Linked DNA regions of Homo sapiens: regions 2, 3 and 4 are each linked to region 1. Evidence: fine-mapped expression QTL. A gene starts in region 1. Each other region holds a variant in brackets. All regions are shown on one strand. Distances are between the middles of the regions. Region 1 holds the start of SETDB2 (SET domain bifurcated histone lysine methyltransferase 2). Region 2 overlaps SETDB2-PHF11 (SETDB2-PHF11 readthrough). Region 3 overlaps SETDB2-PHF11 (SETDB2-PHF11 readthrough). Region 4 overlaps SETDB2-PHF11 (SETDB2-PHF11 readthrough).

The links. PIP is the estimated chance that this variant, and not a neighbour inherited with it, causes the effect.
Region 2: its variant is the best candidate, but not a certain one, in a credible set for the expression of SETDB2 in cerebellar hemisphere (GTEx, PIP 0.55).
Region 3: its variant is the best candidate, but not a certain one, in a credible set for the expression of SETDB2 in whole blood (TOPMed, PIP 0.90).
Region 4: its variant is the best candidate, but not a certain one, in a credible set for the expression of SETDB2 in iPS cells (HipSci, PIP 0.82).

The regions. Positions count from the first base shown.
Region 1 is chr13:49,440,438-49,448,545 of GRCh38, reverse strand. SETDB2 (SET domain bifurcated histone lysine methyltransferase 2) reads right to left here and starts at 4,272. Exons shown (of 14, transcript NM_001160308.3): 1 at 3,689-4,272. It overlaps CAB39L (calcium binding protein 39 like), which reads left to right and starts at 4,482. Exons shown (of 11, transcript NM_001079670.3): 1 at 4,482-4,560. SETDB2-PHF11 (SETDB2-PHF11 readthrough) reads right to left here and starts at 4,272. Exons shown (of 21, transcript NR_135324.2): 1 at 3,689-4,272. RefSeq lists enhancers at 3,119-3,892, 4,575-4,654, 3,893-4,665, 5,035-5,104 and silencers at 4,365-4,414, 4,086-4,566.
Region 2 is chr13:49,486,286-49,494,393 of GRCh38, reverse strand. It overlaps SETDB2-PHF11 (SETDB2-PHF11 readthrough), which reads right to left. Exons shown (of 21, transcript NR_135324.2): 12 at 3,484-3,572. It overlaps SETDB2 (SET domain bifurcated histone lysine methyltransferase 2), which reads right to left. Exons shown (of 14, transcript NM_001160308.3): 12 at 5,764-6,104; 13 at 3,484-3,572; 14 at 1-2,662. The coding sequence ends at 2,545. It also overlaps the pseudogene SNRPGP14. Among named protein-coding and RNA genes, the nearest start is that of PHF11, 5.6 kb to the left of the region's middle. The variant C/T (reference allele first, on the strand shown) is at 4,656.
Region 3 is chr13:49,510,603-49,518,710 of GRCh38, reverse strand. SETDB2-PHF11 (SETDB2-PHF11 readthrough) reads right to left here. Exons shown (of 21, transcript NR_135324.2): 13 at 5,545-5,652; 14 at 560-693. It overlaps PHF11 (PHD finger protein 11), which reads right to left. Exons shown (of 10, transcript NM_001040443.3): 3 at 5,545-5,652; 4 at 560-693. Among named protein-coding and RNA genes, the nearest start is that of PHF11, 19 kb to the right of the region's middle. The variant A/G (reference allele first, on the strand shown) is at 2,217.
Region 4 is chr13:49,466,104-49,474,211 of GRCh38, reverse strand. SETDB2-PHF11 (SETDB2-PHF11 readthrough) reads right to left here. Exons shown (of 21, transcript NR_135324.2): 5 at 6,252-6,348. SETDB2 (SET domain bifurcated histone lysine methyltransferase 2) reads right to left here. Exons shown (of 14, transcript NM_001160308.3): 5 at 6,252-6,348. Among named protein-coding and RNA genes, the nearest start is that of PHF11, 26 kb to the left of the region's middle. The variant T/C (reference allele first, on the strand shown) is at 3,367.

The DNA of each region.
Region 1 (8,108 bases):
ATGGTTTACAGAAGAAATCAAAGGAGAAATTTAAGAACATTTAGAAATGGTGATCGGTTGAAGTAATACATTTCAAAGCCTGAAGGATTTTGCCAAAGCAGCATGCCAAGAGATATTTAGGCCTTAAATAAATTTTATTAGCAAAATGAAAATATTGACTTAAACATTCAATTAAAGAAGCTGGGAAAAAAGCAACAAAATAAATAATAACAAATGAAGATAGATCTCTAGCTACTGAAGAGATTTTAAACATTTTAAAATTCAGACAGTTTTATGTCAATGAACCTGAGCACAGACGAACTGAACAATTTTCTAGGAAAATATAAATTACCAAATAGGCTCAAAACACTGAAGATATTACTAGAGATGTGTGCCACACATCCCCACCCCTCACTGCTAGTTCACTAGGTCCATTAAGTTTTACAGATGAATTGTACAAAACTTTCAAAGAATAGATAATTTTTATCAAACACAAACCTGTTCTGAAGCAGGAAAAATATGGGAAGCTACTCAACTTTTTCTTAAGCAGTTACTCAATTTTTTTTTATGAGATATGAAATTTTTTTCACTGCTAGTACACTAGGTCCATAAACTTTTACAGATGAATTGTACAAAACTTTCAGAGAACGGCTAATTTTTATCATATACAAACTGTTCTGAAGCAGGAAAAATATGGGAAGCTACTCAACTTTTTTTTATGAGATAAGTATAACCTTGACATGCAAGAAAAAAACTCAAGGCCCAAATCACTACTGGGTCTTAGACACAAAAATACTGAATAAAGGTATCCAGCAGTAGAATAAGAATGTATTACCAAAATAGTTTATCCCAAGAATACCTAAAAAGTTTAACATGAAAAGTTTATCAATGTGAATGCTTATATTAACAGGCAAAGGGAGGAAAACTATCACTTCATGCAGAAAAACAAAACAATTCAATATAAAATTATTCCATGGAAGGTGGGGGGGCCCCTTAGCAAATTAGGAAAAAAGAGAACTTTCTTATTCTGATCGAGGCTATCTACCAAAACATCCTACTCAATGACAGCAAACATCATACTCAATGATGAAACATTCGGAGAATTTTTATTAGGCACAAGATGAAGACAGTTGCTATCACTGTTTTTATTCAATACTGTACTGGAAGTCTTAGAGAAATTCAGTAAGATAAAAAGAGGCCTAAAGATTGGCAGAGGAAAATCCATCTGTAGAACAAATAAGTTAACAAAAAGTCAAAAGCCAAGCAAGAAGCTAAGAGAAAATGTTTTTAACATATTTTAACAATAGCAACAAAAAGGAGGCATAATTAACCATACACACCAAAGAGACTTCTAAAAATACAGTATCGAGGACACATAAAGAACTTAAACATGTTTTTAAAAAACTATAGAAATGCATATAAATTATAGGTTAACAAACATAATAGACACTTCAATCTTAGATCACAGAATGAAAATTAAAATTAAAAATATAATTTGCAGCCATCACTAGGCAAAAATGAAGAAGATAATATCTCATGTTAGTCTAAACTGTAGAGAAACTTAACTCTCATAAACTACCTGTGGAACATGTAAATTAGTAGAGGTATTTTTGGAGGCAAATTTAGCATGACCTATTAAAACTAAAAATGCTCACAACTTAAAACCAAGCAATTCCACTTTTAGGTATATATCCTAGAGAAATAGCACATGTGCACAAGAAAACACAAAGATTTTCCTTGCAGCATTGTTGTATGGTGAAAAACTGGAAACCTAATGTTCTCAGAGAATGGCAATAAAATGTGCTATACAGCACACATCAAACAAAATAGGATTTAACAACAAGACCAATAAAAGAGACAAAGAAATGTTTTATATTAACAGATCAATTCAGTCATACACTGGAACACTATGCAGCAGGTAAAAGAAATGATCCATAAATAACATAATGAGCTATAAATAACATGTACAGGCTGCAAAAACAATGTCAAGAAATAAAGCTACAGAATGATGTAGTATAGTATTTTTCCACTAAAAAATTACAAATGTATATATTCACCTATATAGAATATGTAACAGTATTAAAAGGTGTAAGTATTAAAAAACACTTGAAAGCTCTGTACCAAAGTCTCCAGCGGGAGTAGGGAGGGAGAGGAGTGAGGGAACATTCCTTGTACAAAACTTTCAAAGAACGGAGAATTTTTATCATATACGAACTTTCAAGAAGGAAAAATACGGGAAGCTATTCAACTGTTTTTATAAGTATAACCTTGACACGCAAGAAAAAACTCAAGGTCAAAATCTGGATTGTGCTCTTTATCTACAAGGTACCAATTCTGTAAAAGAATGTAAAAGTGTACTTAATTTTTAAAAATTAAGTATATATAAATGTTCAAAAAGGAATTCATTTTAAAGCTTTTTATAGCATATTGTCAAACTCTCTTCCAGAAAGGTTCTACCAATTTATACTTCCACCTAAGCACACTCAGTAATAGTTTTATTTTTTTTTAGACATGAGGTCTATGTTGCCCAGGTTGGTCTTGAACTCTGGGCTCAAGTGATCTGCCAAAGTGCTGGGATTATAGATGTGAGCCACCCACCGCGCACGGCCATAGATTTTTTTTTTTTTTTTGAGACGGAGTCTCGCTCTGTCACCAGTGCAGTGAGAAGGGTGCAGTGGCGTGATCTCGGCTCACTGCAGCCTCTGCCTCCCGGGTTCAAGCGATTCTCCTGCCTCAGCCTCCCGAGAAGCTGGGATTACAGGGGCCCGCCACCACACGCCCGGCTAATTTTTGTGTTTTTAGTGGAGACGGGGTTTCACCACGTTGGCCAGGCTGGTCTTGAACTCCTGACCTCAGGTGATCCGCCCGCCTCAGCCTCCCAAAGTGTGGGGATTACAGGTGTGAGCCACCGCGCCCGGCCCATAGCTTTGTTTTTAAGCAGCTCTCACCAGCGTTCACACCTGAAAATTTGAAAACTGAACGTGCACAAGTAAAACATGTTTCCTGGAGAAAATCTGCAAAATACAATAAAGCATAAAGGAGAAAATTTAAACACCATCCCATCATCCAGAGACAACTGGTGTTAATATTTCAGAGAGTAAATGGGCTTAAAAAACTTTTTTCCCCTTCTCACTTTTTCATTTTGGTAGAAAAATAATTAAGCCAGTCTGCTTTGCTTCAATGTATGGTTCCTTTTCGTTTCTAAAACAGGCTTTAAAAACACGTTTACCATTTCCTCTCGGCTCCTTACGTTTTAATTGTAACGACAGAACCACGGGTTAAGTCACGCTTAAGAACCACGGGTTAGTCACGCTTCTAACTACTTCACGTGTTCTTATTTAATCCCCCTAACAGTCATGTGGGTTAAATTAGCAGCTCGTTTGCTGATGAGGAAGCTAAGGAATGCCATACCGTAAGTGGCAGACACGAAATAAGGAACCAGGCAGCATGGTTTCAGAGCCTATGCTTTGGTTACTCCATTTGACCTCTTCAAATTTACTCCTCTCCTTGGCCTCATGTGTTAGTATTTACAGAGCTCACTGCAGGTTTCCACATGCCAAAGAGCACAGTTAATTACATATCTTTCCTTACTTAATTACTTATTGGGCTGTGGCTGATAGCGAGTCAGAAGTGTTACTATCTAATCTGAACTCCATGATCTTGGATGAATGACTGAACTTGCTGTATTTAAGGGCTCGTGTAATCTTACCTGTGAAATGGGCTAGTGGTTTAACCTTCAAGTTCTGCTTCTGGGTTTTATACTGCTGTCCATTTCCTGCCGCCCCTTTGACAACCTCAGGTTCCCAGCAGCTTAGGAATCACCTCTCATTAAGGCTGCACCCTGAGACAGACAGGCTGAAATGGAGGTTGGAAACTCAGTGCGCCCGCGGCCCCTTCTGCAGCCAGGACTGCACTTGGGTGCCAGGAGAAGGGAGGCTGCAAGGGCTGGGGTCCAGCCCCTGCTCGGGCGGCCGAGGGCTCCGCGGCGTTTTCAGCTCCTCCAACCTCCCGGCTAGAGGAACTGTCGGGGGCCAGCCACGGCGGTGCCTTGGTTTCACCTGGCTCCGCTGCGTTTTCTACGCCGCCCGCCTGACCTGAGGAGTGAGCTCCGCCAGCTCCGTTGGCAAGGCTGGGTTCCTCCGCGGGTGGGGCTCTCCTCCGACGCCAAGCCGCCCAAACCTCCCGAGCGCAGGTGCCCTCTGGCCGGGAAGTACTTCACCATTTACTAGCCTTCATCTCAACCACAACAGTCCCGCCCTGCCTCTACCGGGGATGAGGGAAGGCGTAACCTCCGCCGGGGACCAGGCCGACCTACCTAAACCGATCACTACATGGGAGGAGTCGGACGCCGGCCGTCCCACCACCCAGCCAGGAGCCCATTGATTGGTCGCACTCCCCACTGGTTCACGCCTCAGAGACTCGGCGCACTTACCGCTGGCACCGCAGTGGCGCCCGAGCGCGCCGCCTCCCGATTGACTGCTAGCGCTCTCGGCTTGTCTCGCGCACTGTAGCTGAGCCAATGGAGTTACTCGTAGTCGAGAGGCCGGCATCACTGGAGTGGTGGCGCAGCTGTTTCCTCCGGTAGGTGTGAGGCTGCCATCTTGTGTGTGGCTGGGACTGGGCTTCTTGGGGGTTGAAAACATACATAGCGCCTGGCCGTAGTGGAGGGGTCCGGAGAGAACAATGGGGTAAAGGAGAGGCCTAAGGGAGGAGACCCAGCGCCTTCCTACTTGCGGAAAGGATGGGTTTCCTGGGCCTGAGTCTCATCCCTGGCTAGAGAGAGCGAGGAATGGTGGTGGTGGTGGTGGTGATGGTTGTGGTGGTGGTAATAGTAGGGATCCCAGGTTTTGGTTTGTTGATCATTGTGGGGGCTGGGCGGGGCCTTTGATGCCTTAACATTGGTTCCTGGGAGCTCTTTTAGTAATTTTTGTCTCGCAAAGATTCTGACCATCAACCCCCTTTGACAAAGGAGGCTAGCTGATGAACTGCCTGATTGAGAAAGGAGCAAAGCTAGTAGTGGAAGGGGAGTGCCTCTCTACTATCCTCAGGTTCAGAAGAGACCTCCTCTTCCGTCCTTTTCGAGGGAGCGGCTGCTAAACAGTTTGCTCTTCGCGGGGGTTACTTTACTAAGGCCATCCTTTGGTAATAGTGGGCGTCAAGTTCTGCGTTTGGGCAAAATTGTACATTAGCGGGCAGCCAAGCATTCCTGCAGCTGTCTTTTTTTTTTCTTTATTTTAAGCTAGAAAGTGGTGGTCTTGCAGAAACGGGGCGTGAAGGAAGAATTTTGTCAAATCTTGATTTCCCCGATAACGATATGTTGAAGATTATAAATCTCTGGGTCTGCCATGACATGCTTGGTCACTTCATGGAGCAGGAGGAGGCTTTGTTAGGGAAAGCACCTTAATTTCTGAGCTCTTTTTGGGGTAGGAGGAAGAAGACAGGACTTAACCTTGTTTCCCTCCTCCTTTTTTTTTTTTTTTTTTAGCATTGTTGTGGATGGCATTGCATTGTCTTTCATTTGAGGGGAAAATGTATTGGATCTGAAGACCAAGCTGATGAAAGGCTAATATTTTGTGGTAGATTTTAGCAGTTTGACTTGCATGAAAAGAAAGCCGATGTATTATTGCCTTCAGCTTAGATTTCAGTTATTCAAGATTAACTGATGAACAACCTAATCAACAATACATGATAAAGACATCTCGCATCAGGAATACCAAAAAACAAAACAAACAGCAAAATAATTGATGTTTTTTTTTTTTTTTTTTTTTTTTTTTTTTTTGAGATGGAGTCTCTTGTCGCCTATGCTGGAGTGCAATGGTGCAATCTCGGCTCACTGCAACTCTGCCTCCGTGGTTCAAGCGATTCTCCTGCCTCAGCCTCCTGAGTAGCTGGGACTACAGACACCGGCCATCACGCCCAGCTAATTTTTGTATTTTTAGTAGAGATGGGGTTTCACCATGTTGGCCAGGCTGGTCTTGAACTCCTGACTTTAGATGATCTGCCCGCCTCCACCTCCCAAAGTGCTGGGATTACAGGTGTGAGCCACGGCACCTGGCCTGAGAATCATTTTTCTTAATTACTTGATTCCATGCTTGTATCTTCCACTTGACTTGTATCTTCCAGTTGGCTTGTCAAAATGCATGGAGAAACAAAAGTTCATATACCTTTTGACCTTTTCTAAGAAACTTGTAAGGAAATAGAGATAGAATCAAAGCTTTATAATCACAGTGTAATTTTGTTCTTGTGAAAAATTGGAAATAACAAATATCTAATGGTAGAAGAATGGTTTTATAAATTATGACACATCCCATCATTATATTTTTCAGCCTTTTAAAAGGAACGTTTTCAAAGAGTAGTGGCATAGGCTGTTGAATGACATAGGAAAGTGGTTACCATTTTGTGTTAAATGAAAGAAGTATAGAATAGTCATTGGGAAAATGCAAATTAAAACCACCGTCATTGGAAAAATGCAAATTAAAACCACAGTGAGATACTACACAACCTCTTACTCAGAATGTCAAAACAAACAATACATTTCCTGGCAAGGATGCAAAACAAGGAGAAACCTTAGTCTTGCTGGTGAGACTGCAAATAGTACAGCCACCTAGAAGACAATTTGACAGTTTATTATAAAATTAATCATATCCTTATCACATGATCTGGCAAGCCCACTCTAGATTGAAATTTACCACCAAGATAAGAGAGTTCCAGTAGTTTTTCATCCTTGTCAGCACTTGGCATTATCAGTTAAAATATTTAGCCTTTATATGAGGTATGATGGGGTATCTCATTGTGGTTTTAATTTCCCCTTTGATGATTGTATGCTTCTCTGATGAAAAGTGAAATGAAAACCTATATTGGCTGCTCTGCAAATATTTATAGCGATTTTATTTGTAATGGCCAAAACTGGAAACAACCAGATTCCACTAGGAAATAGATTTTTTTAAACTCCAGCATGTCCATACAGTGTAACATAGGAACCTCCTTTTTATTTTCTTTAGAGATGGGATCTCGCTATGTTGCCCAGGCTGGAATACAGTGGCATGATCACAGCTTACTGCAGCCTTGACCCCCCAGGCTCAAGTGAACCTCCCTCCTCAGCCTCAAGAGTAGCTGGGACTATAGATATGTGCCACCATGCCTGGCTAATTTTTTGGAGAGATGGCATCTTGCTATGTTGCCCAGGCTGGTCTCAAACTCCTGGACTCCAGTGATCCTCCTGCTTTGGCTTCCCGAAGTGCTAGCATTATAGGCATAAGCCACTGTACCTAGCCGGGAACCTCCTTTTAGTATATAGTTATATAAATATATGGGAAAAGGGAATATATATATATATATATATATACACTAAATCATTATAAGAAAATCATCAAAATAAGCCATAAAACATTGCACGAGATTATGAAAACATACCCCAAAAATGTGGCCACAAAGCAGATGAAAATGACAATCTAAATATTTCAGAGTAAGCTAAGAGAATTTAAGGAAAAGATGAAATCTTTGAAAGAACCACATAAATTCAGAAATAAGAGCTCAGACATGAGATACGTAGGAAGTTCTAGCCAGAGCAATCAGGCAAGAGAAACAAAAGGCATCCACATAGGAAAAGAAGTCAGACTATCTCTCTTGGCTGATGATCTGATTGTATACCTAGAAAACCCTAAAGACTCCACCAAAGGCTCTTGGAACTGATAACTTCAGTAAGTTTCAGGATACAAACTCTGTACAAAAATCAGTAGCGTTTCTATACCAATAATGTTGGAGCAGAGAGCCAAATCAAGAATGCAGTCCTGTTTACGATAGCCATACACACACACACACACACACACACACACACACACACACACACACTGCCTAGGAATACCTCTAACCAAGGAAGTGAAAGATCTCTACAAGAACTACAAGACACTGCTGAAAGAAATCATTGATGACACAAACAAATGGAAAAACACTCCATGCTCATGGATTGGAAGAATCAATATCATTAGAATCGCCATACTGCCCAAAACAAGCTACACATTCAGTGCTACTGAATGTGTAGCTTGTTTCAAATTATACTTTGAGGCTACAGTAACCAAAAAAGCATGGTACTGGTACAAAAACAGACATATAGGCCAATGGAGCAGAAT
Region 2 (8,108 bases), 46 kb before region 1:
AGGGGAAACAAAGAAACAAACCCTGGAGGACACAGATTATGCCGAAAGAATACAGAGATGCATGCCTGTATGTGTATGTATACGTGTGTGCATATACATACATAAACACACAAACATCTTCAAGGAGATAAAATACTGCAACCATGAGCCAAAATAGGATGCTATTAAAAAAAAAGAATATTCGGAGAAGGGGAGCTCTTAGAAATTAAAAATATGAGACAATATGAGACTAGAAAAATAAAATGCAACAGATGAACTGGAAGATTAAATTGAGAAATGCTCCTAGGAAAAGGTCCTAGCAAGAAGACAGAGCTGAAAGTTAAGAGAAAAGATAGGAAAATTAGAGATCAAATTCTGGAGGTCTAACATCTGGAAAACAGGAATTCCAGAAACAGTGAAGAGATGGGAAATCATTAGTTTCAGACGGAATGATCCCACCAGGCACCTAGTACAAAGGATGAAAATGGACTCTTAACAGGGACAGAACATTGAGACAAAGATAAACCTATAAGCTTCAAGAGAGATAAAAATGGATTATATATGCAAAAGAGAAGGAACAGAATGGCATTCAATTTCCAGTAGTCACCCTGGAAGCCAGAAGACAGATTTTCAGACTCCACAGCAACAGCACTGAAAGCTAGCAGATGTCTTCAAAACTGGGCATGGAGACCACTAAAGAATCCTATACCTTGCCAACCAAAACAGCAATCAGGTATAAGGGTAAAATAAAGACATTGTCAAACACACAGAGATTCAAAACATTTACTTTTCATTTTTCCTTTCCAAAAGCTATTGGAAGAGCTTTACCAATATGTGGAAGAGTAAACCAAGGAAAAGGAAAATAATGGCATCTAACTGGAAACAGATCCCACATAAGAGACAAAGTGAATCTCTGGGGTACTGATGGAAGATGATGGCTATGAACCAGTCCAGACTAAAGCAAATCAAGATTTTAGGAGAAATTTCTCCAAGAAGATAAAACTGACAGAATACCTCATATTTCTAAAGGTCAAATGGACTCCACAGGCAGAGCTCAAAGAAATACTGGCTGATCCATAATATTCCCTTTTGCACAAAAATGGTTCCCATACTGATCAAGCTTTTTTCCCCCATTTCATTTTAGTGCATTGCCTGAAATTCCTGCGTCTCTATGGTGAATAAATGGATTTCTCAACTTTCTTCATCTGTAGGTTGCTGGGCTATGTTTTGCTCCTTTTCCTAGCTGTCTGGTTTCCCAGTCTGCTTGGGCTTCCCAGTCCCCTTTTCCACTAGATAGATGATCACGGCCAAGTAACCTATGGCAAAGTGCTTACTCTTTGCCTTTTTTCTGTAAAAAAAAAAGATTTGCAAATCATGCCCAGGAGATACCAAGGGGCTGTTTCAGATTTCATAGTTCAGAATTGTTTTCGTGTGTGTGTGTGTGTGCTGTTTTTTTTGAGAGAGAGTCTTGCTCTATTGCCCAGGCTGGAAGTACTATGGTGAAATTATGTCTCATTGCAGCCTTGACCTTCTGAGCTCAAATGATCCTCCCACCTCACTCCTGAGTAGCTGAGACTACGGGCACATGCCATCATGCCAGGCTAATTTTTGTATTTTTTGTAGAGACAGGGTTTTGACATGTTGCCCAAGCTGGTCTTGAACCCCTAGGCTCAAGTAATCCACCTGCCTCGGCCTCTCAAAGTGCTGGGATTACAGGTCTGAGCCACCATACCTGGACTTCTTGTGTTTTTTAAGTGAAATTTTTGCCCAGTACAATTACTTCTGGCCTAAATAAGCAACGTGTGACTACTTTCTAGGTTTCCTTTTCAGTAACTGTATCTCTATCTAGAACAAAAATATTCAAGTTCCTCCAGGTTTCTATTCCCTCTTCTCCTATCTGTTTGTATAGAAAGAGTAGAGAAAATCTGTGGGAAAGAAGACTCATTTCAAAGAGCTTGCCAGAATCTTACTTACAGAAGAGCTTCTCCCTCTCCCCACTCAAATGGTTGATGGGACAGTGTTTTATCGATCCAGATATTGCTTCTCCAACAAGTGTTAAAATACTTGGGAGTAATATGCATAAAATTAGATCCTCAGGCGCTGTTGCCCACCTTGTAGCTCATAATGGTAAATTATTTGCCAGGAATTAAAAATCAATTTTGTAGGTAAAAATGTGAAATTTAGCTCTTTGGGGGGGCATGAACTAAAAGGTAACAGTCACAAAAGCAATTAGAAACAGCTGAGTTCTGTTATGACATTTGTTTCTCTTAATATATAATTTGTAAATAAATTATAAATTGTACAGTGGTATTTCATATAAAATATACACTTCCATCCTACTCATGTAAAGTAGCACAGCAGTGAACAAGATACCCTATGTGTATGAAAATATCCTAATTGTGTTCCTGGAATTTCTAAGTCACACAAATAAAATCTGAAATAAAACATAAACCCCATGACAAAGGAAAACGGAGGGGAATTTCCTTGATGGACCTAGACCTTCTTTTGCATGGCTTTAATTTCAGCCTGATAAGCTAATTTCACAAACAGGCGTTAGTTACATATTTATAATATTTTTTTTCTACATTTATTAACCCCACATTGGCAGAAGATTTCCTTCTCAGGCACAGTCCCAGCTTCATAGCCATAATCCCATGTTAGCTCTGTTCTTGCTTTCACATACCTAGAAAGTAGAAATTTGAAAAGAATCATAAAATACCCTAAATAACTACCAATGAACCAAATTATATCAATTTTCATATTAACATTAACCATCCTCAAAAATATGATCTGTTCTCTCACCCAACATCCACCAATTAGGAATGACCTTTTATTAAGAATAACCATTTGAGTTTTATTTCAAATCTACTAAAATGTTAAGTAAGAAGGAACCTATCAATATGAGGAAGAAGTGTATTTTGCCAACAGTGGGACCCAGTCATGTGTTGAGGCCTGCAGTGTGGAAGTAGCTGGGGAATAGCTCTGAATTAAAGATTATGTAGCACTCTGCATCATTTATCCCGAGTGGAACTGGGTGATACCTGATATCTTCAGCCCTTTCAGGCATTCATTCTAAATGGGAATAAGAGTCAAAATTTCAGGTGTGCAAAATCTTATTGAATAGGAACAGTTTAGGATAATTGAATATTCTACAGTACCAGATATTTGGGGCTATAGTATATATCTTTAAAAAATATTTTTCTATTATAATTATCATTTTTTGAGACAGGGTGCAAACTCTACCTCTTGGGCTCAAGTGATCCTCCTACCCCAGCTTCCTGAGTAGCTGGCCACCAAACCTGGTGAACTTTTTCTATTTTTTTTAGTAAAGACAGGGTTTCGCCATGTGGCTCTGGCTGGTCTTAAACTCCTGAGCTCAAGCAGTCTCCCCACCTTGGCCTCCCAAAGTGCTGGGATTACAGGTATGAGCCACAGCACTCAGCCCTCTATTGTTATTTTTAAAGTCACAATTTCAGAATTAAGTAAGCGAAATCAATTTCAAACCTGTTGGTGAAGAATGCCACCAATGGAAAATTCCTGTTGTGTGTTTCTACAAAAACATTCTGTACCAAGAGATTTGGGCAACAACTATGCTGTTAAATAAAAATAAACACAAAGGTTAGAAATAGCATAAAGTCTGATGCCTTGTGCTTTTGCATTAGAAAACCATTCTGTTTTTAATATATCACACTGATTTTGTTCTTTTTTTGTCAATGTATAAATTATCACAGCTCCTGTTAATAGTGGGAACCCATTCAGAAAAGCCCTGTTCTGACGCTCTTCTATGTTGCTGGCAGAAATGCAAAAATGGGACAAATCCCTATAAAATATGTCAATATTTATCATTATTATAAATGCATTTGTCTTTTGATTCTGCAATCTCATATCTAGAATTGTATTCCACAGATTCATCTGTATATGTTTCCATGTGTAATTATTCATTGAGCATTGTTTTTAGTGCTAAAGGTTTGGAAATAACCCAAATATTTGCCTAAAGCAGATTGGTTAAATAAACTTTGGTACACAATAGAATTCTATGCAGCTATAAACAAAAGCATACAAATAAAAACAATTTGAGAAGCTCTGGGTATTAATATGGAATTGCCACAAGATTTTTTTTTTTTTTTTTTTTTTTGAGACGGAGTCTCACTCTGTCGCCCAGGCTGGAGTGCAGTGGCATGATCCTGGCTCACTGCAACCTCCGCCTCCTGGGTTCAAGTGATTCTCATGCCTCAGCCTCCCAAGTAGCTGGGATTATAGGCATGTGCCATGACACACGGCTAATTTTTTTTGTATTTTTAGTAGTGACGGGGTTTTGCCGTGTTGGCCAGGCTGGTCTCAAACTCCTGACCTCAAGTGATCTGCCTGCCTTGGCTTCCCAAAGTGCTGGGATTACAGGCATGAGTCACATCACGCCTGGCCCAATATACTGTTAATTTGAAAAACAAAGTATAGAACAGTGAATATAATATGCTATGTTTTATGTAAAAAAAAAAGGGGGGGGGGGCGGGAGAAATAAGGCCAGGTGCGGTGGCTCACACCTGTAATCCCAGCACTTTGGGAGGCCGAGGCAGGCAGATCACTTGAGGTCAGGAGTTCAAGACCAGCCTGACCAACATGGTGAAATTGTGTCTCTACTAAAAATGCAAAAATTAGCCAGGCATGGTGGTGCACAC[C/T]TGTAATCTCAGCTACTCAGGAGGCTGATGAGGAGAATCGCTTGAACCTAGGAGGCGGAGATCGCAGTGGGCCGAGATCACACCACTGCACTCCAGCCTGGTGACAGAGCAAGACTCGGTCTCAAAAAAAAAAAAAAAAAAAGAATAAATATGATGACCTACAGAGAGAAGGTGGAGTCGGGGCATGGGAACAGGAGCACAGTACTTCTCAAGGTATGGCTTTTTTTTTTTTTTTTAAACAAAAAGTTTTCACAAAGTAAGTTTAATATGAAGATGTACAGAACCTAATTTTTACATCACTGTAACAAACAAGCCTTTTGGAGAGGAGATATTGTAAGCAACAAATTTCTTTGCTGAAGATAGCCATTATGTATCGTCGTTCCGAGGCTTCTAAATAGATGATACCATTTCCTCATATTAGCACTATTCCAGTATTGCTCTGTTGCCCACTAGCCGCCATCTCCACACATTCATCATGTGATTCATTAACGCCTGTAATCTCAGCTACTCAGGAGGCCGAGGCATGAGAATTGCTTGAACCCCAGAAGCGGAGGTTGCAGTGAGCTGAGATTGTGCCACTGGTGACAAAGTGAGACTCTGTCTCAAAAAAAACAAAAAATAAAAACCAAAAAACCAGTATATTGTGGCAATCTTTCCATATTAATACACCATTAAATCCCTGCAGTATTCTTTGGACATATCTGCCACCATTTAACTTCACTGATAACTTCCTAGCCATACATTTTTTTCAACTCAGGTAAGTGAGCTTATTTAAATCTGATATATTTAAATACTTTTCTTATACACCATTTCTTACAGTTTTTTAAAAGCAAATGTTTACTATGTGCTAGGCACTGTTCTAAGCACTTAATGTTAATTCATTAGATTCTCATAACATCCTGAGACAGTTATCATTTATCCCTGTATTACAGAGGTAGAAAATGAGGTATCAGAGGTCAAGTAAAACATCCAACTGTATACAAGTGGAGGACTGGAATTCTAACCAGATGGTCTGACTTTAGAGTCTGTTTATTTTCCTCATAATTTTGTTAAGTAGCATAGAAAAAAACAGTTGTTCAGAAATAGGAATCTCAGCCCTTATACTCACATTAAGGAAGCGGCCGACATTTCCTTCTTTTGTGGCATCCAATAAAAACACATTCCCTTTATTGAACTTTGTTAGAGAATCAGATGAAGTATTCTTGGTTTCACTTAGCAACTCTTCATCACAAAATACCTGCTGTCTTTGACATGCTGTAGATCGTCCCTCTTGGGGTTTCTGAATTTGAACCTCAATTGCCTTTTTAATATTCTGATTATCCAATGTGGTCGCCTGGTTACATCTGCTCCTTGGTGGAGTTTCTTCTCTATATTTAGTTATATCTATCACATCTGATTCAATCAGCAGATTATCTTCAAACTCATCAACATGGTTTGAACTTGAGTCCTCTAATAGACATTTTGGAAGGAAACATCAGGAAATATACTTGCTGAGCAATAGTGCTGAAATTAACAACACTAATTAGATGCTAGGTGCTTTAATTATCGATCCTTACAATGTGTTAGGCAGGTAGTATTATTTTAATTGTATAAAGGAAACTTTCTCTGAGGGATTAAGGAATTCATCTGACCCACAATAACGAGAACTGGGGTAACAAACCTAGAAATGTTTGAATCCCAAAGTCTGCCTTCTTTCTACTACGTAACAATGCCTTTTTATGAATCTACATCTTGCTTCTTCATTATTATATTTAATCTCTACTCATAATAAACTGACTTTCTTCTCTTTAATTCTGGAATCTGCACTTAAGTATATTCTAAACAAATGTAACAGAGTGGGTGTTTTGGAGGCACTCTAGGCCTTTATGCTGCCAATAAAAGGCCTAACCCTGACAGAGACACCTTCCACAAGTCCCAGCAGTGACAACTGTATTGCTAGGGGTTTTGCACATATTAGTGTTTGGTGTTTTACTAGATGACCATTCAATAATTACACCTTTGTAAACAATAATCCTTTAAAAGCAGATGCACTGCTTAATCGTTTTTCTTATCCAATAAGGAAAATAATTTTTTGAGAGTATTCAAGAGTATGAATATGGCTGGGCATGGTGGCTCATGCCTGTAATCCCAGCACTTTGGGAGGCCAAGGCAGGAGGATGCTTGAGGCCAGGAATTCAAGACCAGCCTGGGCAACAAAGTGAGACCCCATCTCTACAAAAAATTTTAAAAAAAAGAAATTAGCCAACAAGGGGGTGTGTGCCTGTAGTCCTGTTTGCTCAGGAGACTGAGGTGGGAGGACTGTTTGAGCCCAGGAATTGGAAGGTACAGTGAGCTATGATCCCACCACTGCACTCCAGCTTGGGTGACAGAATGAGTCGCTGTCTCTCTTTAAAAAAAAAAGAAAAGATATGAATGCATGTCAGATGGAGTAAGTATAAATTACTTACTTTAAAAGAGCCACAAAGCTATTTGGACCACCTAATTCAATGGCGCAAAGAAATTATACTTGTCTAAAATTGAGGCTCTTGATTTAATCATCACTGTTGTTGCTGGCTGCTGTTCCTATATGTACTTATATTTTAATCATGGGTTACGTGTAAGCCATAATACAACTTTGGATTTTTTTATACAAAAAGTATGTAGCTTTTGACTTTTGGAGTACCCGCTATATATATTGTAGCAGTCAATGAAAAGGGCAAAAGAACCAAAAGCAACGGTATGCACTGTGGCTCACATGCATGATAAAATAAATATAATACACAAAATCCCCTTTTTTGATAGACCTTTTCTATCAAGGAACTGCCATGTCTCCTCCAATCTCCATCCTTTAATATTAGGTGGAGAGCTGCGGTTGCAGGGGGGAAGAGACAGCAGTGGCTCACCAATTCTTCACAAACGGATATCTCTCAGCAATGTCTCCTTGTGAAGGACACAGTGAAATGCAAAAGTACCAAAAACAATGTTTGTCCAGTTGTAATATTAACTATGGCAAGGACTAGTAACTCTGAAACACAAGGACTCAGGGTGGCAATATTTTAGCCTTTTGCCAGAGTCAAGCTGAGTATGCTCTGCGGCAGTATTGGCTAGGCAATTGCAGGAAAGTGATGTGTGTTTATTTTTAAAGGCGTCTACAAAGAGTTTGAAAGTGGCTGCTTTGCACAATGGTTCCAAAGCCACGGACAACACCTGTGCACCACAAAGACTCAAGAGTTTTCCAGCCCACCCCTCTTGTCATGCATCAAGTCACTACTGGCAATTAGACCAGAGGTCAGCAAAGTTCTCCTGCAGAAGGCAAAATAGCAAATATTTCAGGCTTTGCTGGCCATGTGGTGGTCTCTGTTGTGATTATTCAACTCTTGCTGTAATGTTGAAGCAGACAATATATAATGTAAATTGGCTGTATTCCAATAAAACTTACATTTTATTTTTTTTTTTGAGACAGGGTCTTGTTCT
Region 3 (8,108 bases), 70 kb before region 1:
ACTGACCAGCTGTGTAACCTGGGGACAAGTCACTGAGTGTCTCAAGGCCCCAGTTTCCTCCTCTGGAAAATGGAGATAATAGTATCTACCTCAGTTGACTATTATGAGGATTAAATGAGTTAACATTTGTAAAGCACTTAGAACTATGCCTGGCATAAAGCAAGTGGTTATTAAATAAATAAATAAAATAGTGCCTGGAACACTATGGGAAAATTAGGAATATATGCCCACTGGCAGGAAAAACATCAGCCTCTGAATGGAATTTTTAAAAATCATCTTACGAATGTAACATAGCTCACAAAAATCATATTTAAAAAAACATGCTGTCCTAACATTGATCTCATTATTCAAGATATTGTGACTAAAATAATATATATATATATATAGATTTTTCACTGAAATTCAAAATTCACATAACCCCTGTGCATCCCCCAAACTGGCTTTGTTCTCATTTGAAAACCATTTACATAAAATTAGTCTTCAAAGTCTCCTTGTCTTAATCCAACCATTCCTTATCCCAATCCCCCAAATGTGGTTTTAAAAATGTTTTATTAAATACTTATAAATTCCTCGAACTCCATCAGACTGTGGAACTGCGTCGTCCTTCTTGGCACAGAAAAAGTGGTAATTCTTGTTACAGTTTTTTAAATCACATCCCACGGTGGCTCCTCTTTTATGACAAAATTTGCATTTCTACAGAAGAATAGATTTTACTGAGTAAGTACCTGTTTGTTGTTATTTGTTAAAATTCAAAGATATCATTAAATGTTATTTAAGTTCCAGAAGCCCTGCATTTTATCCTGGGCATCATCAGCAAGATTCCATCCCGTTACAAACATTAGGGTACAGTACTTATATTTGGCTGCTCATTTGGGAATTTCAGCGAAACCTCAGCTAACCGGAATGCTTGGACAGACAGTTTTGTAATGATCTGATTAAAAGCAGAAAAATGCTTTTTGTTTCAAAAAAACAGTCTCTGTCTTTTAAAAAGAATTTTCTAAAAAGCAGAGTGGGCAAACTTGTCCAGCTCCAGGCAAGGGGCCCCACTAGGGGGCCCTTTGAGACAGGCGAGATTGGTCGCTGGCTGTGCCACGGAGAGTGGTGTGATTTCTCTTTCGGACTCAGAACCTGCTGTGGGTGATAATATCTGTCTTACAGAGTTGCCATTGAGGATAATGTGAGATAAAGTAAGGGAATCTAGGTAGTAGGGCCAAAAATTTTTAAAAATTCTACAACTCTATTAACAGTTTTTTCTTGGTTCAATTTATTTGATCCCTGGCTTGTATTTATCTATCTGGTATTTTATATGTGACAGTGGTGTCATGATGGCTAGGCAGTGTGTGGCCACAGCAGCCTAACTGGTTTAGGGGAATCCAGCCAGGACCAAGGCTGATCAGCATGATACTCTGGCTGAATGACGTGGGGGCACAGTGAAATTGCCTTGCAGAACAGGAGGTCACTCACACCATAGCCCAGGGTCGGCACAAGCAAGCATAGAAACAGTTAAAGGAAATTCAAATATAGGCAAGAAATAAGGTTATGATAACGGTGGAAATTCAAATCAGAGCATACAAGAACGATCATTTAATTTGGGAGGAGGGTAACTGGCTATGTATATAGGAAAAAAATAAAGTTAGATCCCTACCTCACAATATACTCCTGAATAAGTTGTACATGGATTAAAGCTCGAACCAGATAACAATGTTAAACAAAAAACTCTTAAAGATTAGGAAATATAGGAGAAAGAAAAAAAGCGTAGTATGGAGGCAAGGAAGGCTGTCTAAGGCAGGAAGAAAACCCAGAAGCCACAAATGAAAACTCTGACAGGCTGGGCATGGTGGCCCATGCCTGTAATCCTAGTACTTTGGGAGGCTGAGGCAGGAGGATTGCTTGAGCCCAGGAGTTCGAGACCAGCTTGAGCAACACAGTGAGACCTCATCTCTACAAAAAACTTTAAAAATCAGCGGGGCATAGTGGCACACTCCTGTAGTCCCAGCTATTTGGGAGGCTGAAGCCAGAAGATGGCTTGGGGCCAGGAAATCAAGGCTGCGGTGAGCTGTGATTGCACTCCAGCCTGGGCGACAGACGGAGAATCTGTTTCAAAAACAAAAACTGACAGAACCTACTATACAAAAATTTTAAACTTCCATTTTATAGTGAGGGCATTCAAAATATTTAAAAGACAAGGAAAAGATTGAAAGAAGAATGTTTGTAGC[A/G]TACTAGATAAAGTTTTAAGATTCTGATAACCTGCAGAAAAATGGTAACTGGCAAATTACAGAAGAAAAAATACAAATGGCTAATAAACATTTATTCATTTAAAAATACATGAGTATATAGTATTTATTTAGCATGCAGTAGCTATGATGTGGCAGGCATGGTTTTAGGATAAGGGAAAACAGTAGTGGACAAAGCAGAAAAGATGCCTGTCCACGTGAAGCTTACATTCTATTGGAGACAAGGTACAATGATCAAATAAAGCAAAGTTTAAAACGTCTCACAAAGTTATATACACATTATATCGAATTAAAATAGGGTGAAGTGACAGTGTCACTGGGTCCCTACTTCAGACTGGGCAGTTAGTAAAATGGGTCACCTCTAAGGAGGTGATATGGAAGCTGAGATCTGAATAATAGTAAGAGCTCCCAGATGCAAAAAGGAGGAGGAAAGACATTCTAAGCAGAGGGCCTTGGGTCTTGGCCGCAAGAATGAGCTTCCCCATTGGCAAGCTACAGCGAGGACAAGACAGATGGCCAGTGCTGTTGGAGCAGCGAAGTGGGCACAGGGAAGTCTCAGGATGATCAAAGGGGTAAGTAAGGGCTGGGTCACGTAGGACTTACATGCCAGAGTAAGGAGTTGGGTTTTATCTTTCTGCACGGGGAACATAAACTGATTAACATTATTGAAAGATCACTCAGGCTGCTGGGCTGCTGCTGGGTGGAGAACTACGGGCTGGGGTAGGGATGGCAGGAGAGACAGTCGGGCGAGTGTCAGTACTCGCTTTAGAGAACAAGATGGGTGACTCCGCTATGGTGGATTACTGACGCTGAGAGAAGTGGGTGGATGAATGCAAGATGCACCTAGGAGTTCGTGCCCATGGGCTTGGTGTTGGGCTGGGAGGTTGACGAGGAAAAGAGAGTCCTTAGACTTCTGGCTTGGGCAAATGGATAATGATAGTGCTGTTTTTATGAGCAGATTTAGATGGAGAATGTGTGTGTGTGTGTGTGTGTGTGTGTGTGTGTGTGTGTGTGTGTGTGTATAGGAGATGGAACTGTACTTTTTTGGCCACTTTACTCTGAAATGCTATTGGATGTCCATGTGGCTCTGTCAGATTGGTAGTCTGAATCCTAGGGAGGAGCCTGCTTGCTGAGGGCCCCTGCTGCTCACCCTCAAGGTACTTGCCCAGCTTACTGAAAATACCACAGCACTGGCCTGTCCCCACCCTGGGTGTGTGCCATGTATCTGCCCACATAGTCCAAGAGTTCCATAAATGCTGTGAGAGGGTAACTATTACCTCAGGTGACTTTCCTCTCTTCTCTCCTTTATCCTCCACTTCCAACCCATCCCAAAGCCTTCCCAGTAGGGAAGTCTGCATCCCAAGGTCCGCAGAAACCCTCAGGTACCTGCTTTCCCCCAAATATTATGCCTCCAATCAACTGCCCTCATTTCTCAGCCTGGGTCTCTTCATAACTGGATGGCTACTAGAATTTCACAGAGATTTCTTTAACTCTGTGTCTCCCCACTCAAATCCAATTAGTGAAGAGCAAAAAAATATTCCAGTTGAGGTCTGTCTGCTACTTTCTAATCAGTTCACCCATCTCATCACACCCAAAATCCTAGGGATGTGGCATTGTCAGCACTAATGATGTCAGCAGCCAGTCTTGCCAAGTATTAATTAGTAATAGCATAGACATTGAGAGCAGGATCCACACACTCTTTTTTTTTTTTTTTAATTTGAGACAGAGTCTCACTCTGTTGCCCAGGCTGGAGTACAGTGGTGTGATCACAGCTCACTGCAGCCTCGACTTTCCAGGCTCACCCAATCCTCCTACCTCAGCCTCCCAAGTAGCTGGGACTACAGGTATATGCCACTGTGTCGGGCTAATTTTTTTTTCTTTTTTGGTAAAGACAGGGTCCCACTATATTGCCCAGGTTGGTCTCAAATTCCTGGGCTCAAGCAGTCCTCAACTGCCTTGGCTTCCCAAAGTGCTGGGATTAGAGGCATGCAGCACCATGCCCGGGCCACACACAGTCCATTTTTATGGCTTGCTTCAGGACCTACTACAGTATTGTGTACACTGCCTAAGATAGCATAATTTGCAGAATTCCATCTGGACTGTTGCCTTTCACCCTGCACTTTCCATTTCTTCGATTAAAATGGGCATCATTTTACCTATAGCTGGGAGTTTACCTAGAGCAATGTATGTAACACACCTACCACAGGATGCTGCTGATGCTGATGCCTTGCAAAGACTAACTATACATTTGTCCCTGGTTATTAACCCTGTGGTTGTAGTCAGAATGTGAGGTGCTCACACTTGCTGTCCTGCTTGCTAAGATGTGAAGGGTCCTTGAGAGGATGTCGCTGCAATAAGCCCAGTGGAATGACTTCTCAGCATTTCTTCCTCCTTGAATAGCCCCCTTATGACCCATGAGGAGCTGACCCCTGATTAGTTATGGCCACCCCCAGCAGTTGGTGCAGAAAGAGGGGTGCAACCTAATGAAACTTTCAGAAGGGGGCTTATTCCATGTGTATGGATGACCTTTGTCTTTCACTGGGTATGAACAAGAAAGCCTGATGCTTCAGTTGCTGCCTGCGGCCACCCTATGACCACAATGGGACCAGCTGATGTTGGGGACAGGAGGCCAGAGAGGAAGAACCTGGGCCCCTGATGACATTATCAAGCCACTCAATCAACCAACTTGGAAAGCAGGTGTTTTCTCTGATCAAGTGAAAAAGTAAGTATCCTCTTTGTAAAAGTCTGTTTGACTTGAGCTTTCTTCTACTTACAGCAAAAGCATTCTAACTCAGATCACTTTACTGGTGAAGTATATGGTAGTTTATTTTAAAATATTAAATGTTGGCCGGGCGTGGTGGCTCACACCTGTAATCCCAGCACTTTGGGAAGCCAAGGCAGGCAGATCACCTGAGGTCAGGAGTTCGCGACCAGCCTGGCCAACATGGTGAAACCCTGTCTCTACTAAAAATACAAAAATTTGCCGAGCATGGTGGCCCGTGCCTGTAATCCTAGCTACTCGGGAGGCTGAGGCAGGAGAATCGCTTGAACCCAGGAGGCGGAGGTTGCAGTGAGCTGAGACCGTGTCACTGCACTCTAGCCTGGGCAACAAGAGCAAAACTCCGTCTCAAAAAAAAAAAAAAAAAAATTAAATGTTAAGTTGAATTGAGGTTTCCAATACAGTTCCTACTTCTTCCAGCTCTCCAAGATGCTTCTCTATCCCTGGTGTATCAGTCAAATAGACTCCTTTGGAATGCATTCCTTGAGGGTCTGTTCATCCAGTATAAGAAATAACATCATTTACACTTACCAACTTCCTTCCTCTCTGGATTTCTTTCTTTACTGATTCCACATCAAAACTTCTATCAGGATTAAGTGGATCCTGATCCTCACATTCCACAAGTCCTGAAGAATACAGCTGCAGATTGGAAAAAAAAATCCAGAGTATGCACAAAGTAATATTGAAAGCTACATGTCAGAAAATCATACCAAAAGTGGAAAATCAAACCAGGAGTGGGAAATGGACTGGGGGTAAAACAGTGGCAACTTTGGGGGTGGATGAGCAGACCATAAGCCATCCCATTTCTCTGGGAATGACCCTGGTTTCCGGGCATGTTTTATACTTTGTAATCCTGACCTCTAATAACTCATTGACCTGGGTGGAACCCTGATGCCAAGCTGGGTCAGTCTGATCCCCTATCCTAAAAGTGTGGAATGGGCTTTGAGCAATAGCTGAAGCCACGTGGTTAGAGCAAGTCAGTCTGCAAAGAAAGAAAAACAAGGGCTAGAAAGAGGACATTCTAGGTTCCCAATGGCTTTCTAGCTGTTTCTTACACCCACCTGCATGCCTGCCTTTAGGAAACATGAAATGCCCCCAAAACCTTATCATAAACCCTCTTTTATGTTTAGGCTGGCTCAAGTCTCTATGTGCTACTTGAAACCAGAAGACTCCAAATCTGAATTGAAGATCAATGTTTCACATATTACACTCAAATAACAAAAGGGCATGAGAAACATAAGAGTAAATTTTGGTGACATTGGCATAGGCGAAGATTTCTTATAAAAATCAGAAAGCATAAAGAAAAAGTAAGTTGGATTCCATCAAAATAAAAATTGTCTTTGAAAGACATTGCTAAGAAAACAAAGAGGCAAGCCAGAGACTGGGAGAAAATATTCACAATACATATCTCTGACAAAAGACTTGTATCCAGATTTTAGAAAACACTTACAACTCAATAATAAGACAATTCAATTAAAAGTGGGCACAAAATTTGAATAGACACTTCATGAAAGAAGGTTTATGAATGGCAAATGAGCACATGAGAAGATGCTCAATATCATTAACCCTTAGGCATATTAAAGCCATAGTGAGATGCAATATATATCTACTAGACTGCCTAAAATAACAAGACCCAGTGTTGATGAGGATGTGGAGCAAATGAAATTCTTACATATTATTGGTAGAAATGTAAAATAATGCAATCACTTTTAAGGTTAAACATACACTAACTTTATGACTCAGTAATTCTACTTCTAGCTATTTACCCAAGACAAACATAACCAAACAAGAAAAGGAGACTGAGTGCCCCAAATTAAAATTGTCCTTATTTAAAGATGAGGATTGTCCACATACAATATATCCAGGTAAATCTAGAGACTTTTTAGAACTGATAAGAGTTTGGTAAGGTTGCTGGATGAGACCAATAAATAAAAATCAATAGTGTTCATATATACTGATAATAGCTCATTTAAAAATACTTTAGAAAAAAGTAACAAAACAAAACAAAAAACAAGCCCAGAATATGCCTAACCCCAAGTTCTATACCTCTACAGATAAAAATTACTGAATAGCCGGGTGCGGTGGCTCACGCCTGTAATCCCAACACTTTGGGAGACCAAGGCAGGTGGATCACCTGAGGTCAGGAGATCGAGACCAGTCAGGCCAACATGGTGAAACCCCATCCCTACTAAAAATACAAAAAATTAGCTGGGCATGGTGGCAGGTGCCTGTAATCCCAGCTACTCGCGAGGCTGAGGCAGGAGAACTGCTTGAACCTGTGAGGCGGAGGGTGCAGTGAGCCGAGATCGCGCCATCACACTCCAGCCTGGGCAAAAAAAGCGAAACTCCGTCTCAAAAAAAAAAAAAAAAGCCATTGAACAATTTTGAAATTATGAAAGGCCTAAATAAAGACACAAAGACTCATATACAGATGCTTATAGCTGATTTTTATCATAAGAGCTCCAAACTGGAAATAACACATGTCTACCAACAGATGAATGAATAAGCAAATTGTGATACATGCATACCAATTAAGTACTGTGAAGAATGATAAAGGAACAAGATACAGATACATGCAACATAGATGCATCTAAAACAGTATGCTGAGCAAAGGAAGTGACACAAAGGAGGACAACTATAGGATTCCTTTCATATGAAATCTGAGAAAAGATAAGACAAATCTACAGGGACTTGGGGTAGGAAGGAATTGATTGCACAGAACATTGAGGAAACCCTTTGGGGTAATGGAAATGTTTATATCTTGATGGTGGTAGTGGTTGCATGGGTCTCAACATGTCTCAAAACTTTCTGAATTGGACACTTAAAATGGGTACATTTGATTTTATGTAAATTATGCCAATAAAGTTAACTAAAAAATAGTAGCAAATCAACATCAACAGTATATTAGAATAAAAACATCACGATTGGGCTGGGAGCGGTAGCTCACGCCTCTAATCCCAACACTTTGGGAGGCTGAGACAGGAGAATCACTTGAGGCCAGGAGTTCGAGATGAGCCTGAGCAACATAGTGGGACCCCCATTTCTACAAAAAGATAAATAAAAAATTAGCTGGGTATGGTGGTACGTGCTTGTAG
Region 4 (8,108 bases), 26 kb before region 1:
CAGCTCACTGCAACCTCTGCTTCCCAGCTTCAAGCAATTCTTGTGCCTTAGCCTCCCAAGTAGCTGGGATTACAGGCATGTGCCACCACATCCAGCTAATTTTTGTATTTTTAGTACAGACAGGGTTTTGCCATGTGGGCCAGGCTGGTCTCAAACTCTTGACCTCAAGTGATCCACCCACCTCGGCCTCCCAAAGTGCTGGGGTTATAGGTGTGAGCCACCATGCCTGGCCCTTGATTTATTTTAGTATCCAGTATCTTCCTGTTTTTCAAAGGTGGTACCTGGAACCTACTTGTTCCCTATTATTAGGTGTCAAGTTCCTTCTTACCACTTTTTCTTATAAGGAATTATGGTATAACCTGAACTCTGGATTTTCTATTTATTTGTCTCTCTGAGATAAAACACCCTATTTTCTTTCATTCAGAATTCACTGTAATACATTCCTTAGGTTCTCATGGCCTTGTTCTTTGTTTTGATATAGGTTACTCACTCTCAAGTTACTTATACACTTACAGATTTATAGAGATAGTAAACTGTTCTGTTGTCCTTTTCAACTTGACTTAACCAAATAAATATGTTTCAAACTGGATTCTGTAGTATATTATTCTGTAAATGTCATTTGACATTTTGCCTATGAATTTTTTTTTTTTTTTTTTTTTTGGAGACAGGGTCTTACTCTGTCACCCAGGCTGGAGTGCAGTGGTGCAATCTTGGTTCCCCACAACATCTGCCTCCTGGGCTCATGCAATCCTCCCACCTCAGCCTCTCGAGTAGCTGGGACGAAAGGCATGCGTCACAAAGCCCAGCTAATTTTTTGCTTTTTTGGTAGAGATGGGGTCTCACCATGTTGCCCAGGCTAGCCTCAAACTCCTGAGCTCAAGTGATCTGCCTGCCTTGGCCTCCCAAAGTACTAGGATTACAAGCATGAGCCACCGCACCTGGCCTCGGGTATGAATTTTTTGGTTCCTGTTTTGCTCTTTGGAGGAAGGGGAACATTAAATATTAATGTAGATGACTCAATAAATTTTTCTTGGAATATGAAGGGATTAATTCAGGATATATGTGAGAGAGAAAGTATCTGGGTTATCCTTAGTTCTTAAGTAACTACTAATATTTGAATAGTAGTTTAATGTCCTTTACATAATTTCCTCATATGACACAACAAATACAACTCCAAGTTAGCCACTACTGGAACAATATACAATTAGAACTACTTAGGACTAAAATTTGTAATAGTAAATATGCTGGTAAAACTTGTAATTTGGAATTTACATTTCAAGAAAGCCAAACTAGATTAAAAGTATTCTCCTTATGACTAATAAAAACTAGGAGATACAAGACTCTAGTTACTGAGCAATTAACACTGAGAAATACATGTTTTACATTTAAGAAGAGTTAGGGAGGAGTGGGAGGAGAAGAGAAAAAAACAGAAGAGGAGGAGAAAAGCATAAAAATAAAACACTAGTGTGAACCTTAGAAAAGATTAATTTCTTATCTGTGCTTCATTTTACTAAAGAGAAGGAAAAAACCCAACTTACAAGTCTTAAGTATAAAGTAACCTAATTTCATCCCAATTTTATGGAGAGGAGGGTTAACTTTATTTAGGTGTGAAGATACATTACTGAAAAAAAAAATAGAAATAAAACCAATTCTATGCACAGTATTGTAAACCCAGTCATTGATTAAAAGTGCTAGAGGTAAACACAGGATAAGGAGTAAGTAGTGAGAAGGAGAAGTCCACGGCTGTCTGGACCTGCTTGCCAGCCTCTGGGTAAGGATTTCTCAGTTTGCATATGATTTGACAATTGTTCAGGGTGTTGTTAGTCACTCTGAACATCAAAGTGGAGCATGGCTTAGAGGCTGCCAACTGATTATCTAGCTTTTGGCAAGGCTAAAGTAAGAAGTCATTCTATCCTCTATGACCATTAAGGGGGCATATTTTAAAACAAGAATGTATACTGTATTCATCTAAAGACTGCAGTAGGTAAATCTGGTATTTTGCTCAGTCCCTTCTTTAGTCATCCTCTTCTGAAAGGCAGGTATATTAATTTCAGTGTACTCAAAGATGTTGGGTCTTGTATACATACTGGGCTTTTTATACTGTCTCTTTCAATAATTTAAATTAAGATATTAAAAAAAATGGTTGGGTGCGGTGGCTCATGCCTGTAATCCCAGCACTGTGGCAGGCCGAGGTGGGAGGATTCATTGAGCCCAGGAGATCAAGATCAGCCTGGGCAACATGACTAGACCCTGTCTCTATTTAAAAAAAAAAAAAAATATATATATATATATATATATGTCACATGAGATAACACTTGCACTAGAAGGTTAGAGTTTAGCTGGGGCAGCTATGTTTGGTCATGTGGGAAGAGAAGAAACCTACTGGTAACAGAGAGAAGTAGAGTTGAGACTGTGTCAACCCTGACCTTAGGTATTGACTTTTAAGTTCCTATTTTAGTGTTTACATGGCCTGCTGTGTTACATTTTCTGTTCTTCAAGACCTATTTTATTTATATATGTGTGTATGTATGTGTAGGTACATGTGTGTGCATGTTTTTAAAAATAATCTTTTGGGTTTGTGTGCATGTCATGTAAAAAGCCATAAAAATTTAATGGCTTAAATTTACACCTGTGTCTTTAAGCAGTGGTGCAAGCCCAGTGTCACCCAGTATGCTAACCAAAGCTGCACACCTCGTACACTTCTAATAAATTCCACTACTTAAGCTAGCTTGAATAGGTATGTACTCCTGACAAACCAAAGTTTATACTTGACCAAAAAAAAAAAAAAAAAGGGAATTCAGACTTCTAAAATCACAAAAGTAAATATCCTTTTAAAAGAATTATCACTGAAGTAATACTTTTGTTTTTACATTTACCTATGTCATAACTCACTTATGTGGAGTAGAAATTCAGTTCAACTCAAGAATAGAATACTGGCTGGGTGTGGTGGCTCATGCCTGTAATCCCAGCACTTTGGGAAGCTGAGGAGGGAGGACTGCTTGAGACTAGGAGTTCACGACCTGCCTGGGCAACATAGTGAGACCACATCGCTACAAAAAAAAAAAATGTTAAAAATTAGCCAGGTGTGGTGGTATGCACCTGTAGTCCTAGCTACTTGAGAGTCTGAGGAGGAAGGATCGCTTGAGCTTAGGGCGTCAAGCCTACAGTGAGCTGTGGCTATGTGCCACTGCAGTCCACCCAGCGAGACAGTGAGACCCTGCTGTCTCAAAAAAAAAAAAAAAAAAGAAAGAAAGAAAGAAAACAAAAAAACCCCACAAAAAAACACCAAAAGCCTGAAGCCTGTGTCCTATTAGACCCAAGATTTCATCCTGGGGTTTGCCGTTGATAGTTTGTATAATCTTTTTT[T/C]GAAATAGGGTCTCACTCTGTCACCCAAGCTAGAGTGCGGAGGCGCGATCATGGCTTGCTGCAGCCTTGATCTTCTGGACTTAGGTGATACACCTCAGCCTCCCAAGTAGCTGGGACCACAGGCATGTGCCACCAAGCCCGGCTAATTTTTGTTACTTTTTGTAGAGATGGGGTTTTGCCATGTTGCCCAGGCTAGTCTTGAAATTTTGGGCTCAAGTGATCCTCCTGCCTCAACCTCCCGAAGTGCTGGGATTACAGGTGTGAGCCACCATGCTCAGCCTAATCTTGAGCAGTTTAGCTGGGGCTAAGAATTCCTGGCTTAAGTTATTGAATGTTTAGTTTACTAGGCAACCTATGTGACCACTGGGCTGCTAAGAGGGTTTAAGTACTGAAAATAAAATAAGCAAATAAACTTCTGGCCTGCAGAGGAAATATAAAAGGAATTATTTAAACATAATTCCAGTCAAGAATGAAATGCTTCCTTGGAATTCTTAATGGCAAAGGAAGAAAATCCTAAGCCTAATAAGACATGTCCCTTCATCTGAAAAGATCTCAGAATGCTCAACTCAAAAGTTAGGTATAATCTCAAAAAAAGCCTCTGAGTGTCAACACAGTACAAGAGAGATGGGAGATTAAGGAAATGAAATTCTGATTATATAATCATAAACAGTCCTAAAGAGATGGGAAAACAGTTAAAGAAACCAACTCAATTTTTCTTGGAAGCTCGGATTTTTAAAAGTATACATACAAAAGAAGACAGCTAATTATGAATACGCAACATTGGTACGAAACTGTAAGAAAAGTATCACAAAGCCTAGTAAGAACCGAGGTTTCCAAAAGTGCTAATAAAATAACAACAACAAAAAACAACTAAAGCTATGCTTAGAACAAGAAAATAATCTGTTAGGAGAAAAATAAGGTTAACTGATAACAAAGAGAAGGAAGAGTTTCTCAAAAACAATTCTGCCTTTGTCTTTTCCATCTTTAAGTATGGCTCTCAAGTTGGAAACAAGAGGAAAAAAATAAAAAGAAACTGAAGTCTGTGACAGTTAAAGAGAGGGTACTAGAACTCAAGTTTATTTAAGCATATAGAAGACTCTACAAATTAAATCTCAAGGTCTGGAAAAAAAAACTTCAAATATAGAAAAATTAAAAATAAAATAATACTGCCCTGATTTTTTCTTTGACCACTTATCCTCAAGTTCTAGCTGCCCTGATTTTTAAAAAGGGAAGGAGGACAGGCTACAGAAAATATAGAAAGGTTAGCTTAACACTGGTCTCTTAAAAATCTCTAGAAGAAGGCATCAAGGGTGTGGCTTCTAAATATTTTGAATTTAAAAGGCCAACCAACACTAGGTGCTGAGTTAACAAGTAGGTGAGAAAAATCCAAATTAACTGAATTTTCTTTTTTGACAACGTTTTCAATAAGTCTGAATAATGTCTGGCAATGCCACAGAATGCTATGGCAGTGAACCTTGATTTTTCATGACCACTTTGTAAGTGAGAAGTGTAGGCGGGACAACAGTAGAAGTAAATTCACAGTTGCTTAAAGCGTTCTTTCTGAAGCGTAATAAAAAGAATGTCTAGTAGTGAGCCAGCCACAAGGTTTTTATCTTTGGTCATGTCCTGTTCAATATTGTTTTCAGTGACCATAATGAAGATTAGAAAGCTTATTTATTTGTACAAGATGATAAGCTAAAAGGGACAAAAAATATTCCAAAATTCAAAAAGATTCTGATAAGCTGGTATAATGAACTTAAAGCAAAAAATGATACTTCACAGGAATAAACCACTCCTGCATTTAAGTTTAAAATATAATATCTAAATATATAGATAACTGTTTGGTAGAGAGCTTGTTTGGTGGTAATTTACATGAAAATTTAATTTAGATTTAGACTGAGTGAATTTGTTCCTAAAAACTTACAAAATTTTACACTGTATATTCAAAGGTCAGAATTTCTAGAAAAAAAAATGTTTTGTGAGCCACTGAAATGGCCAATTAAGGAGCTAAAGTGTGAACTTAGCTTTCTCTGTGAGCATTTTAAAGTAATTTTATGGGCCTTTTGAGACCCACTCAAACTGCAATGACATCTCTAATATTTGTAAATCCAAATTATATGAAACAGTGTCTATCTACAACTCTCACAGGCATGAAAATCAAAAAAATAATTATATAGTTTTTCTTAGTCAATTTAATATTAAGCTGAAAGAACAAATGAAATTAGGGTAACAAAGAAGTTTCTTTCTAAAGATACTTCTTTGTTTTTTGAAACTATGTTCTCTACTCTAGAGAACTTTCAGAAACTTCCCTGTAATTAGTACTTGAAGGGTTAGGCCCAGGTATTACCTACTAAAAATAAAGACTACGTGTCAGAGTATCTAGATTCACTCTTCCGCACATCTCCTTTATGCCAAAGAATCTTTATGGAAAGTAATGATAAAATGAGAAAGGGAAGGTCAGAAAAATTTAGTCTATTCCCATAAACTTTTAGACACTACTTAAGAGCTGTTACGCATTTTGAAAACTCAACTGATACTGAAAGAAACATTTTGACACTTTTAAATTCTCCAGATAATCTAAGCAGTAAAACAAAAAACAAAACAAAACAAAAACACACTACTTGGTAGATTTCAGTGTATTAATAAAATACACAAAGACATCTTAAGCTAAACTTTATAAAAAGACTTGATTAACTAGGAATATTCAATAACCTATTCAGAGACTCATGAAATTCTATCTTACATAAAATACTAAAATATACAACTTTTAAAGCTTTAATGGGAAAAATTTTTTTGTATATTTCATCTATTCTAATGTCAAGTGATTTATAAAGAAGAAATCTGTAGGAGCAAAAGCATTAATAACAAAGAATTTATATACATACAGAAATGTACAGTCTTCTGGAAAGGAGTTTTCACATGATGTAGAGGGAAATGCATTGGATTTGTTTTCCTGTTCCTTCTGAGTCACAGGCATAGGATCTACACAAAAAAATAATGTGAGCAACAAATATACCAAGTTAAAAACCATTTGCTATAAGTACCCAAGTAATATGTTCATTGACTAGAGTCTGCCCATATGGATCCCTAAAATTTGCAAACATAGTAAGGTTTCAAGATTGAGGCAAAAGATTAAGTGTCAATATTTTCAAAAATATGAATAAACTAGGATAAAATACTGAGGACAGAAAAGATTTCTACTGTAGAAACTCTAGTTTGGCCTGAACTTGATTTGAAGCTTAACCAATCTTTAAGGTGGACATTGAGTATCCCTACTTCTGCATGCATTTTATAGAGAAATCACATAATTCTTAAAGGCTCTATAAAAGTCAGAAAATGAAAAATTTATGTACCTTTTGTTTTCCTATTGCTCTACAACTATTTTAGGGAGGGGATGAAGTATCTGGGTATCTCTTTTGATCTAGTTGTTCACATTTCTTTTTTTTTGAGACAGAGTCTCATTCACTCTGTCGCCCAGGGTGGAGTGCAGTGGTATGATCTTGGCTCACTGCAACCTCTACCTCCTAGGTTCAAACGATTCTCCTGCCGCAGCCTCTCCAGTAGTTGGGATTACAGGCATGCAAAACCATGCTGGGCTAATTTTTGTAGTTTTAGTAGAGACAGGATTTTATGTTGGCCAGGCTGATCTCGAACTCCTGACCTCAAGTGATCCGTGCACCTGGGCCTCCCAAAGGGCTGGGATTACAGGTATGAGCCACCATGCCTGGCCCAGTATATTTATTTTCTAATAAAAAAATTATAACTTACTTTCCCCCTCAAAAGAAGTTTAATAAAAGGATATTGTATTTCAAGGTTGCTCCTTGGCTAACTGAAAAACAAATATCTGTCTTTAATTTTCCAAGTAAAGAAAGGTTTAAAATCTGATAGCTGAGCCAAGCACAAGGTTCATCCCTGTAATCCCATCACTTTGGAAGGATAAAGTGGGAAGATTACTTGAGGCCAGGAGTTTAAGGCCCCCCTGAGCAACAGAACAAGGCCCTGTCTCTACGACAGAAAAAAAAAAAAAAAAAAAAGTTAGCCAGGCATGGTGGCGCATGCCTGTAGTTCTAGCTATTTAGGAACTGAGGTGGAAACACTGCTTAAGCCCAGGAACCGTAGGCTGTAGTGAGCTATACTTGCACCACTGCACTCCAGCCTGAGCGACAGAGGAAGACCCTCTCTCTAAAATAAATGAATAAATAAAAGTCTGATAGTTGAAGAGAGCTATGTAAAAAGAAAATAAAAATTTAGGACCTTCCAAATTTATTATGCCAAAGGGAAAAGTTAAGCCCTGAAAGAGGACTCATGTAACATGATTGTTTTTTCTTTGGTGCATGACCATTGCTTTCTGACTTCTGTGTTGAGATGTTACACATTAACTAGACTCCACATTTTTTTTTTTTTTTTAAAGACACAAGGTCTTGCTCTGTCACCCAGGCTGGAGTACGTTGATGTGATCATAAGCTCACTGTGACCTTGAACTCCTAGGCTCAAGCTACCCTTCCACTTCAGCCTCCAGAGTAGCTAGAACTACAGGTGTGCAACTCCACACCTGACTGATTTTTAAAATTCTTTTGTAGAGGTAGAATCTCTACCTCAAGCCTGGCTGGTCTTGAACTCCTGGACTCAAGTGATCCTGCCACCTCAGCCTTCCAAGGTTCTGGGATTATAGGCCTGAGACACCACGCCCAGTCAAGACTCCCTATTCTTTATTCAAACCTAGTCTAAATGATATGGAGAAA